Homo sapiens: one gene and its partner. The protein of the gene in region 1 purifies or fractionates together with the protein of each later gene. This does not show direct contact. Each region holds a gene or a part of one and is shown in the gene's direction. Other genes may lie near its edges.

What was found.
Region 2: the proteins of ZRANB2 (region 1) and LUC7L purify together in Homo sapiens (affinity purification with mass spectrometry; 3 studies listed by BioGRID and IntAct, with this or other methods). This does not show direct contact.

What each region holds. Positions count from the first base shown.
Region 1 is NC_000001.11:71,073,487-71,079,094, reverse strand, and holds part of ZRANB2 (zinc finger Ran-binding domain-containing protein 2), read left to right. Parts: intron 1-386; coding exon 387-439; intron 440-529; coding exon 530-638; intron 639-2,217; coding exon 2,218-2,300; intron 2,301-5,608. UniProt on the Homo sapiens protein: Splice factor required for alternative splicing of TRA2B/SFRS10 transcripts. Binds to ssRNA containing the consensus sequence 5'-AGGUAA-3'. May interfere with constitutive 5'-splice site selection.
Region 2 is NC_000016.10:201,950-205,574, reverse strand, and holds part of LUC7L (putative RNA-binding protein Luc7-like 1), read left to right. Parts: intron 1-3,625. UniProt on the Homo sapiens protein: May bind to RNA via its Arg/Ser-rich domain.

The sequences.
Region 1 (5,608 bases):
CTCATTGGTCCACCGCTAGGGTTTAAAACTCCCTGGTAGCTTGTAAGTAATTAGTGAAGTGGAGTTAACTCTCACTTTCAACTTTGTAAAGGGATTATAACTAATGATATGTGCTAATGTGAGGACTTGAGGCAGAGATCCTAAGTAACTTAATCAAGATCACATGACTGGTAAATGGAGGATTGGGATATCTTATTCTGAATTTGTGGCTCCAATCAAGTATTTTTCCCCCAGTAAATTGTGTGGAGTTTTTTGTTGGTAACATTGACATTAACATGACTAAGATGGATTAGAAGTTATGAATTCCAGATATGTAGTGAGGACAAGTTAAAATGTAAAATTTTACAAATTTAAATTTTTATAAATGCTTTTTAATCTGTTTTTAGATGTGGAAATGTAAACTTTGCTAGAAGAACCAGCTGTAATCGATGTGGTCGGGGTAAGTATTTAAAGAAGATTCTATTTATACTGTATATGTATCATTTATTTATTTCTCCAGGTTCATATTGCATGATTTTTCTGTTTTCAGAGAAAACAACTGAGGCCAAGATGATGAAAGCTGGGGGCACTGAAATAGGAAAGACACTTGCAGAAAAGAGCCGAGGCCTATTTAGTGCTAATGACTGGCAATGTAAAACGTATGTTTTTTAAATTATTGTCTGCTCTTTCTTCCAAAATAATAGATCTGGCCACTACTTGTTTATATTACAGCTCTTATTAGTGACATTGACAAGCCAGGGTAACCTTTTAAATCCAAGGTATTGTTATTCAGTCTCATCTTTAAGTATAGTATAAAGAAGTTTTAAATTATTCTTTGCATTTTTTAATGGTAATAGTTGTCACTATGATGGATTATGTATACCAGTAAACAAATGCTTATGGTAAGCTCAAAACCAATCGGGGGGTGGTGGTACTTAAAAGTACTAAGGCCTATTACTTCCTTTATTGAAAAATCCCAATTTTTAGACTGTATAGTTAGTGTGAAATACACCACAAAACTCATTTTGCCTGTTTACAAAATAATGTTAGATTCATAAGTTGTGTGCCGTAAGTAATTAAGTCTAATTATAGGTAGGTTTCTTAATGATTTTTATTTTCAGGCTTAGATTTAATTCTTCATTGATTTTTCCAACTTCCATCTTTTCTCTATGCAGATGAATCCTATGTGTATGAAAGAGGTCTAAATCAAAAAAGTATTAAATAAATTTCTCTTTTTGTTTGTTTGTATTTTTTGTTTTTGAGATGAGGTCCCACTCAGTCACCCAGGCTGGAGTGCAGTGGGGCGATCTCAGTTCACTGTAACCTCTACCTCCCAGGCTCAAGCAATCCTCTCACTTCAGCCTCCTTAGTAACTGGGACCACAGGCCCATGCCACCATGCCTGGCTCATTTTTTTATATTTTTGGTAGAGACAGGGTTTTACCATGTTGCCCAGGATGGCCTCGAACACCTGAGCTCAAGCATTCTGCCTGCCTTGGCCTCCCAAAGTGCTGGGATTACAGGCGAGGCATGGGCCACTATTCCTGACCCTAGAGTCTTAAATAAATTTCTGATCCTCAGGATTATAAATTTGTATTGGAAAAGTTTCCAGCTACAGATTTGGTCACTGGATTTGGTATGCTTTGGAATTCAGTGCTTGAACTGAGACCTCAAAAAAATAAATTAATATTATTTATAGGGTATAACCATACTCTTTAAGGTATATTCAGAGACTGAGAAATTAGTGGAGCTGTTAATTTAAAGTTATATTTTTTCATAAGACATCAGAATTTCTATACAGGTTCAGTATCACTTACCTGAAATGTTTGTGGGTTCAGCATCCCTAATCTGAAAATCTGAAATGCTCCTGTGAGCGTTTCTGTTGAGTGTCATGTCCTCTCTCAAAAAGTTTTAGATTTTGGAACGTTTTTGGATTTTGGATTTGTGGATTAGTGATACTCGACCTGTGGTTATAATTTGTCATTTACTTCTCAAAATGACAGAGGCACTTTTCATACTATATAAATTTTGCTTCTCTGCTTAAATGGTTCAGTCCGTTGTTGGAACCCACATTTACTCTTCAGGCCACTGTACATTTTCTTTGTTTACATTACCACTTAATAAACATTTCTTTGACAGTGGTTTCATCCTAGTTTTTATTTTAAAATTGTAAAATATCTAAAAATTTGATATTCATCTATATTATAGCCTACTAATTTAGTATTTTTCACTTCTAAAGTTGCAGCAATGTGAATTGGGCCAGAAGATCAGAGTGTAATATGTGTAATACTCCAAAGTATGCTAAATTAGAAGAAAGAACAGGTATGATAAAACCACATTGTAACTAAATGATTTTTTTTAAAGCACTAAATATTGAAACGATAATTGTATCACCTTCGAGTAAGAGCCACAGTAAGTGAGGATTCTGTTTATTCTGCCCTGAATGTTTGTTACTGGGATTTTTTTCCCCCCATACACACATACAAATCTTTTGTTTCACAATTTATAAAATAACAGTGTTAGGGACCTTTATCCTAACAAGGAGGGACATAAGAATACTTTCAGAAATATTCTCCTCCTCTCCCTTTCACTGGTTTGCATGTTTGTTATTAGTAATGATATAATGATACCATTTTTAAATTCTTTTGATAGCCTGCTGTGACTTAAAGGGCAAAGCCACACCATTTAAAGTGTTCTTCTAAAGCTTTGGCAGTAATTCTGAAACTTAAGCTATGTGCTAGATTATCTGAAAAACTTTTTCAAATATCGATTGCAAAATGCAGAACTGTTAAAGTTATTTGGCGGTGGGTTTCCAACATCTGCAGGTTTTTTGGATGGTGTTTGATAATCATTGGCCTAAATAATAGTTGATCATTGGCTTTGTATGTTACTGGTGAAATGAAAATGTTTACCTAATAGCATATAGTTTTTCCATTATCACCAATTAGCCCAACCACATTATCTGTTTACTTAAAATCTGATTTTGTCTTTCAACTGCTTATATGTCACATGATCAAAGGATTCCTTCTATATCTAGTCACCCTGTCAGACTTAGGCTTGGTGAACTGCTTCCCTGTTTTCTTTGCCTCTCTAACTTTAGGCCGTTTTCATTGTCTGTTTAGTTTCTAGGGATCAGAGGGCCACTGTTCAATCTTTTCGACCTAGCTCTTCCAGACTTCAACAGAAATTCTACTTTTATCCCCCCCCACCCCTTTTTTAAAACTTACATTCTCATATGTGAGAACATTATAACATAATGTCCTTGATCCCCCCTTCCCCAGCCCAACCGCCACTTTCAACCCTCAAATCCTGCCTTATTCTTAGGAAGTGATTTTGCCTTTCCACCGATTGGGTAAGTTAAGGCCTTCTGACAAGGATCTCGTTTTTTTCTTCCCTCACCTAAGGTATGCACCGTACCTCCTTCACCGCCCCCACCAACCCCCGTTTGATTGATTGTTTATTCTGTCTCCTTTGCAGGTTTCTCTTCTTTTGGCCACTGATGTTGGGATTCTTCGCAGCCATCCCTGGCCCTCTTTCTTTCCTCTATTTTCATGGTGTTTTCTTCTAAGCCCAAAGTTTAAGTAACTTTGCCATGATAACCCAAGTTTATGTCTCCAGCTCAGACTTCTTTGACCCATATATCCAGCTGCCTATTCAACATTGCCATGCAAATGTCAAACTCATTATATTCAAACTGAATTTGTGATTTTACCCCTGGGACCTGACCCTCTTCCAATGATCTCTTTCTCATGATTAGTACCACTCACCATACATTTATTACATAAGCTGGAAATCTAGATGTCCTTCTTAGCCTAAATAGCCCTTTCTTGATATCTCCCATACCCCAAAAATTCTTTTCCATTACCACCCTAGGCAAAGAATTACTATGTTTTGTGGAAAAATAGCCACCTAGCTGGTTTCTACATGTTTTTATTTCCAAATTTAAAATCCTTTTTTAAAAAACCCATTTTGATTGCTTTTAGGATAAAGTCTAAAATCTTTTTAACAGTTTCAAAACTTAAAAAAACTTTGACCTATTTCCTGACTCCTTTATAGTTTCATTATCACAAGAACTATAGTTTAACAGAGAAGTAAGCAAATTTTATTTGATAACTTCTCACTTTTCTTATTGTCATTTTTCAGTCATTCTGGTGTCTTGAACCTTTCTCACTTCCCTTGCTACAAGTATTTGTCTTTGCTGGTAACAGTTGAAGGTGTGAAATAACTTACTCTGTTGCTTTCCGCTTTCTTTTGGCTATTTGTAATAAAGCAGTGCAGGGTTTGGGGAGCATTTCCTAAGCATGAGACAGGATATGAATAAAAGAGAATGTGATTCACTACCTCTGAAAGATTGCTGCTGGCTTATCCTGCATAATTCCATCAAATTGTTCAGTAATTTACTTCTCTGTTTCAGGATTTAGGATTATTTTTGTTTTTGTCAGCTTTTTTTTAAAAAAAAAACCATTAAAGATAATGGCATAAAAACAAACTTAGTACATTGTGATTTTTATTCTTTTGGATTCTTTCCTTAGAATATGTTCTCAGGAGTTGAATTAATTGTTCAGGGTGTAGAATCACAGAGTTTTCCTGTTAGTGCCTTAGTTCTTCCTTTGAAGTACATGTTATATTCATCCCCCTTTCCCGCTTTTTTTCCATTGTCACAATCTTGATCCAAACATTCATTTTAAACCTGTGTTTGATTCTTTCTTGGCCCTTGCTCAGCTTTTTACATTATACTGTGAGACAAATTTGAAAATATATTCATTGTAAGACTTACTAAAATCTACGGAAATTCTTGGTTGCTTTCTAAAGCTTTCCATAGAAATTCAAATTCATTAGATGATTCCAGAATTGTGTTTTCTGTATTCATTCCTTGAAGACATTTATAGGCCACTGTGCAAGGTGCTGGGGATACCTAGGTGAGCAAAAGAGTCTTACAGCACCAAAGATTAATGAAGTCCTCTTTAGGAAAGCTATGCTTAAGCTAAGAAGTGAAAGATGAGTTACCTGAGTAATGGATTAAACACTCTTCTTTCTGTTTGTGGAGAAGTAATTAGGAGAGGTGGCGGCAAGAGTGGAAATAAAACCAATTTATACAGCATTATCTGAAGTGCTTGAAATTAGTAGAATGACGGAAACATACATATCATTCCATTGATTCCACTATCTCAGGTATTCAGTGAAAATGGTATGCTTCAGTTTTTTCACGATAGGGAGCTAGTGTATTTTCCATTTATACAGAGTTAATGAGCTAGATTTATATTGTATGGGTTCATAGAACATACCAATGTCTTTGTTGTCAGCAGACTATTTTGCTGCCTCTTAAAATAATTTTATTTACATACTTTTGAAAAATTAACTACTAGAGTTATAGTTCACTTTCTAATTTTACTATATTTTTGAGCTTTCCATATTTGTCATATTACTTTTCAGTTTTTTCCTATGTAAATTATTTCCAATTTAGATCCCACGTATGTTTAAAAATATTTTTATTAACTTCCAAGTATTTTGAAGTTTTCACTAGTACAAAGTATAATGAAGAAAAGATGCTATATTAGTGTGGGTTTTTTTCAGAAAGTGAAATTTTAAAAATATTTTTTTAAATATGATAGGCAAATTTTAAGTTACAA
Region 2 (3,625 bases), on another chromosome or scaffold:
TTTTAGCTTCATAGCTAAATTGAGAGGAAAGTACAGAGATTCTCCATGTACCCTCTCCTCAGACAGCCTCCTCCATTCCTAGCATCTGCCCACAGTCAGTGGGTCTACGTTGACTTGTCATTATCACCCAAAGTCTGCAGAAAATGTTAGGTATGTCATGAATACATAAAATATATGAGGATACTAGTCTTTTATTTACTGCCATAAAATATACACAAGTCTATTATGAAAAGGTAACATTTGTCAAAACTTAAGCATATGGCCAGCTATGGTGGCTCTTGGCTTTAGTCTCAGCTGTTCGGGAGGCTGAGATGAGAGGATCCCTTAATCCTAGGACTTTTGGAGTCCAGCCTGGATAACATAGCAAGACCCTGTCTCTAAAAAAGAAGAGGCTACATGCAAACGCTTACAGACCATACATGACAGCATTCGCCGTAGAGAGATGTTAACAAACGTAGTGCAGAGGTGCAGTATTAAATCAGGGCTGCCTAAGAATAACTGTAATAGGTACTGTACTACTGTAATAATTCATGCCACTTCCTGTTGCCATTGTGTGGAGCTCAAGGGTCGTGAGTATCCCCTTGAAACACCACGTGACACTCATCATCTCCGAAGGAGCAGTTCACCTCTCCAGTACATTCCTACTGCAGTAAAAAGTGAACTCACAGGGTTCCTAGGCGTTTTTCATCGTGTTTAGTGCAATACCATAAACTTTGAGTAATGCCATAGGATCCATATGCCACTAGTGATGCTGAAAATGCTCCCAAGAAGGCAAGAACAGCCATGATATTACAAGAAAAAGTTGAGTTGCTTGATGTATACATTAGATTGAGGTCTGCAGCTGCAGTTGCTACCATTTCAGACGGACAATTCATCTTGTAAATGAGCAGTGTAAACGTACAGAAGTGATCAGTACAGCACAGTACTATAAATGTATTTTATTTTCTCTTCCTTATAATTTTCTCTCTTTTTTTTTTTTTTGAGATGGAGTCTCGCTCTGTCCCCCAGGCTGGAGTGCAGTGGTGCGATCTCAGTTCACTGCAAGCTCCGCTTCCTCGGTTCACACCATTCTCCTGCCTCAGCCTCCAGAGTAGCTGAGACTACAGGCGCCCACCACCACGCCCGGCTAATTTTTTTGTACTTTCAGTAGAGATGGGGTTTCACTGTGTTAGCCAGGATGGTCTCAATCTGACCTCGTGGTCCACCCGCCTCGGTCTCCCAAACTGCTGGGATTACAGGAGTGAGCCACCATGCTCGGCCCATGGCTAATTTTTTTTTTTTTTTTTCATTTCTAGTAGGGATGGGGTTTCACCGTGTTGGCCAAGCTGGTCTCAAACTTCTGACCTCAGGTGATCCGTCTGCCTTGGCCTCCCAAAGTGCTGGGATCACAGGCGTGAGCCACTTCGCCAGGCCATTTGATACCTTTTATGAGTCTTGTAATTTTTCTCATAGTGAAGATCTCATGCATGTTTTGTTAGATTTCTACCTAAATATTTCATGCTTGCGGGTGCTGGTGTAATTGGTCATTTGTTTTTTGGTTTTTGTTTTTGTGTTTTTTTGAGATGGAGTCTCATTCATTCGCCCAGGCTGGAGTGCAGTGGCGTGATCTCGGCTCACTGCAACCTCCGCCTCCCGGGCTCAAGCGATTCTCCTGCCTCAGCCTCCCGAGTAGCTGAGACTATAGGCGTGTGCCACCATACCTGGCTAATTTTTTGTGTTTTTAGTAGAGATATGATTTAACCGTGTTAGCCAGGATGGCCTCTATCTCCTGACCTCATGATCCGCCTGCCTTGGCCTCTCAAAGTGCTGGGATTACAGGTGTGAGCCACCGCGCCCAGCCCTCCCCACCTCCACCCCGCCCCCCGCCCTGAGACGGTCTCACTTTCTCACCCAGGCTGGAGTGCAGTGGCGCGATCTTGGCTCACTGAAGGCTTGATCTCCTGGGCTCATTTGATTCTCCCGCCTCAGCCTTTCAAATAGCTAGGACTGAAGGCACATGCCACCAAGCCCAGCTAATTTTTTGTATTTTTTGGAGAGACTGGGTTTCGCCATGTTGTCAAGGCTGGTCTTGAAATCCTTGGCTCAAGCGATCTGCCTAGCTCTGCTTCCCAAAGTGCTGGGATTAGAGTCATGAGTCACCATGATGCCTGGCCTCTTGTAATACCTTTATCTGGTTTTGGTATTATGGTAATGTCCCCATAGAAGGAGTTAGAAGATACTCTCTCTGCTTCTATTTTCTGAAAGCGATTGTAGAGAATTGGCATGATTTGCTCCCTAATGCTTTGGTAGAATTCACCAGTAAACCCATCTGGACCTGATGCTTTCTGTTTTGGAAGGTTATTAATATACAGATTCATTCAGATCATCTGTTTCTTCTTGTGTGAGTTTTGGCAGATTGTGTCTTTCAACATTATTATACTTTTTTTTTACACGGAGTCTCTCTCTGTTGCCCAGGCTGGAGTGCGGTGGTGCGATGGCTCGCTGCAACCTCCAACTCCTGGGTTCAACTGATTATCCTGCCTCAGCCTCCTGAGCAGCTGAGATTACAGGTGCCTGCCACCATGCCCAGCTAATTTTTGTATTTTTAGTAGAGAAGACGGGGTTTCACCATGTCGGTCAGGCTGGTCTCAAACTCCTGACCTCAAGTGATCCACCTGCCTCAGCCTCCCACAGTGCTGGGATTACAGGCGTGAGCCACTGCTCCTGGCTGTCTTTGAAGGGATCGGTCCATTTCATCTAGTTTATCGCTTTTGTGGGCATGGAGTTGTTGTTTTTAAGAGTTGTTTGTATTATTCCTTTAAAGTGGGTGGATCCGTAATGATGTCCTGTCTTTCATTTCTGATATTAGTACAGTCATATCTTTCTTAATGACAAGGATTAAATATTCTGAGAAGTGCGTTCCATGGTTCATCATTGTGAGAACATTATAGAGTGTGCTTAACAAACCTGGGTGGTATAGCCATGTGGGCTGTATGGTAGAGCCCATTGCTCCTAGGCTCCACACCTGTACAGCATGTTACTGTGCTGAATACTATAGGCAGTTGCAACACAGTGGGCCCCTAAATATTTGTGTACGTAAACATAGAAAAGGTACAGTAAAAATACAGTATAAAAGATAAAAAATAACACTTGATACGGTTTGGATGTGTGGCACGTCCAAATCTCATGTTGAAATGTGACCTCCAATGTTGGAGGTGGGGTCTAGTGGGAGGTGTTTGGGTCATGGGGGTGGTTCACTCATCAATGGCTTGGTGCCCTCCCTGGGATAGTGAGTTCACCTCAGAGCTGATTGTTTAAAGGAGCCTAGGTCCTTCTCTCTGTCTCACTCCTTCTTTTGCCATGTGATATGCTGACTCCCCTTTTGCTGCCTTCTGCCCAGCGTAAAAGCTTATGGAGGGTGGGTATGGTGGCTCATGCCTGTAATCTCAACACTTTGGAAGGTCGAGGCAGGAGGATTGCTTGAGTCCAGGAGTTTGAGACCAGCCTGGGCAACATAGGGATACCCCATCTTTACAAAGAAATTAAAAATATGGCCGGGCACGGTTGCTCATGCCTGTAATCCCAGCACTTTGGGAGGCCAAGGTAGGTGCATCACCTGAGGTCAGGAGTTCGAGACCAGCCTGGC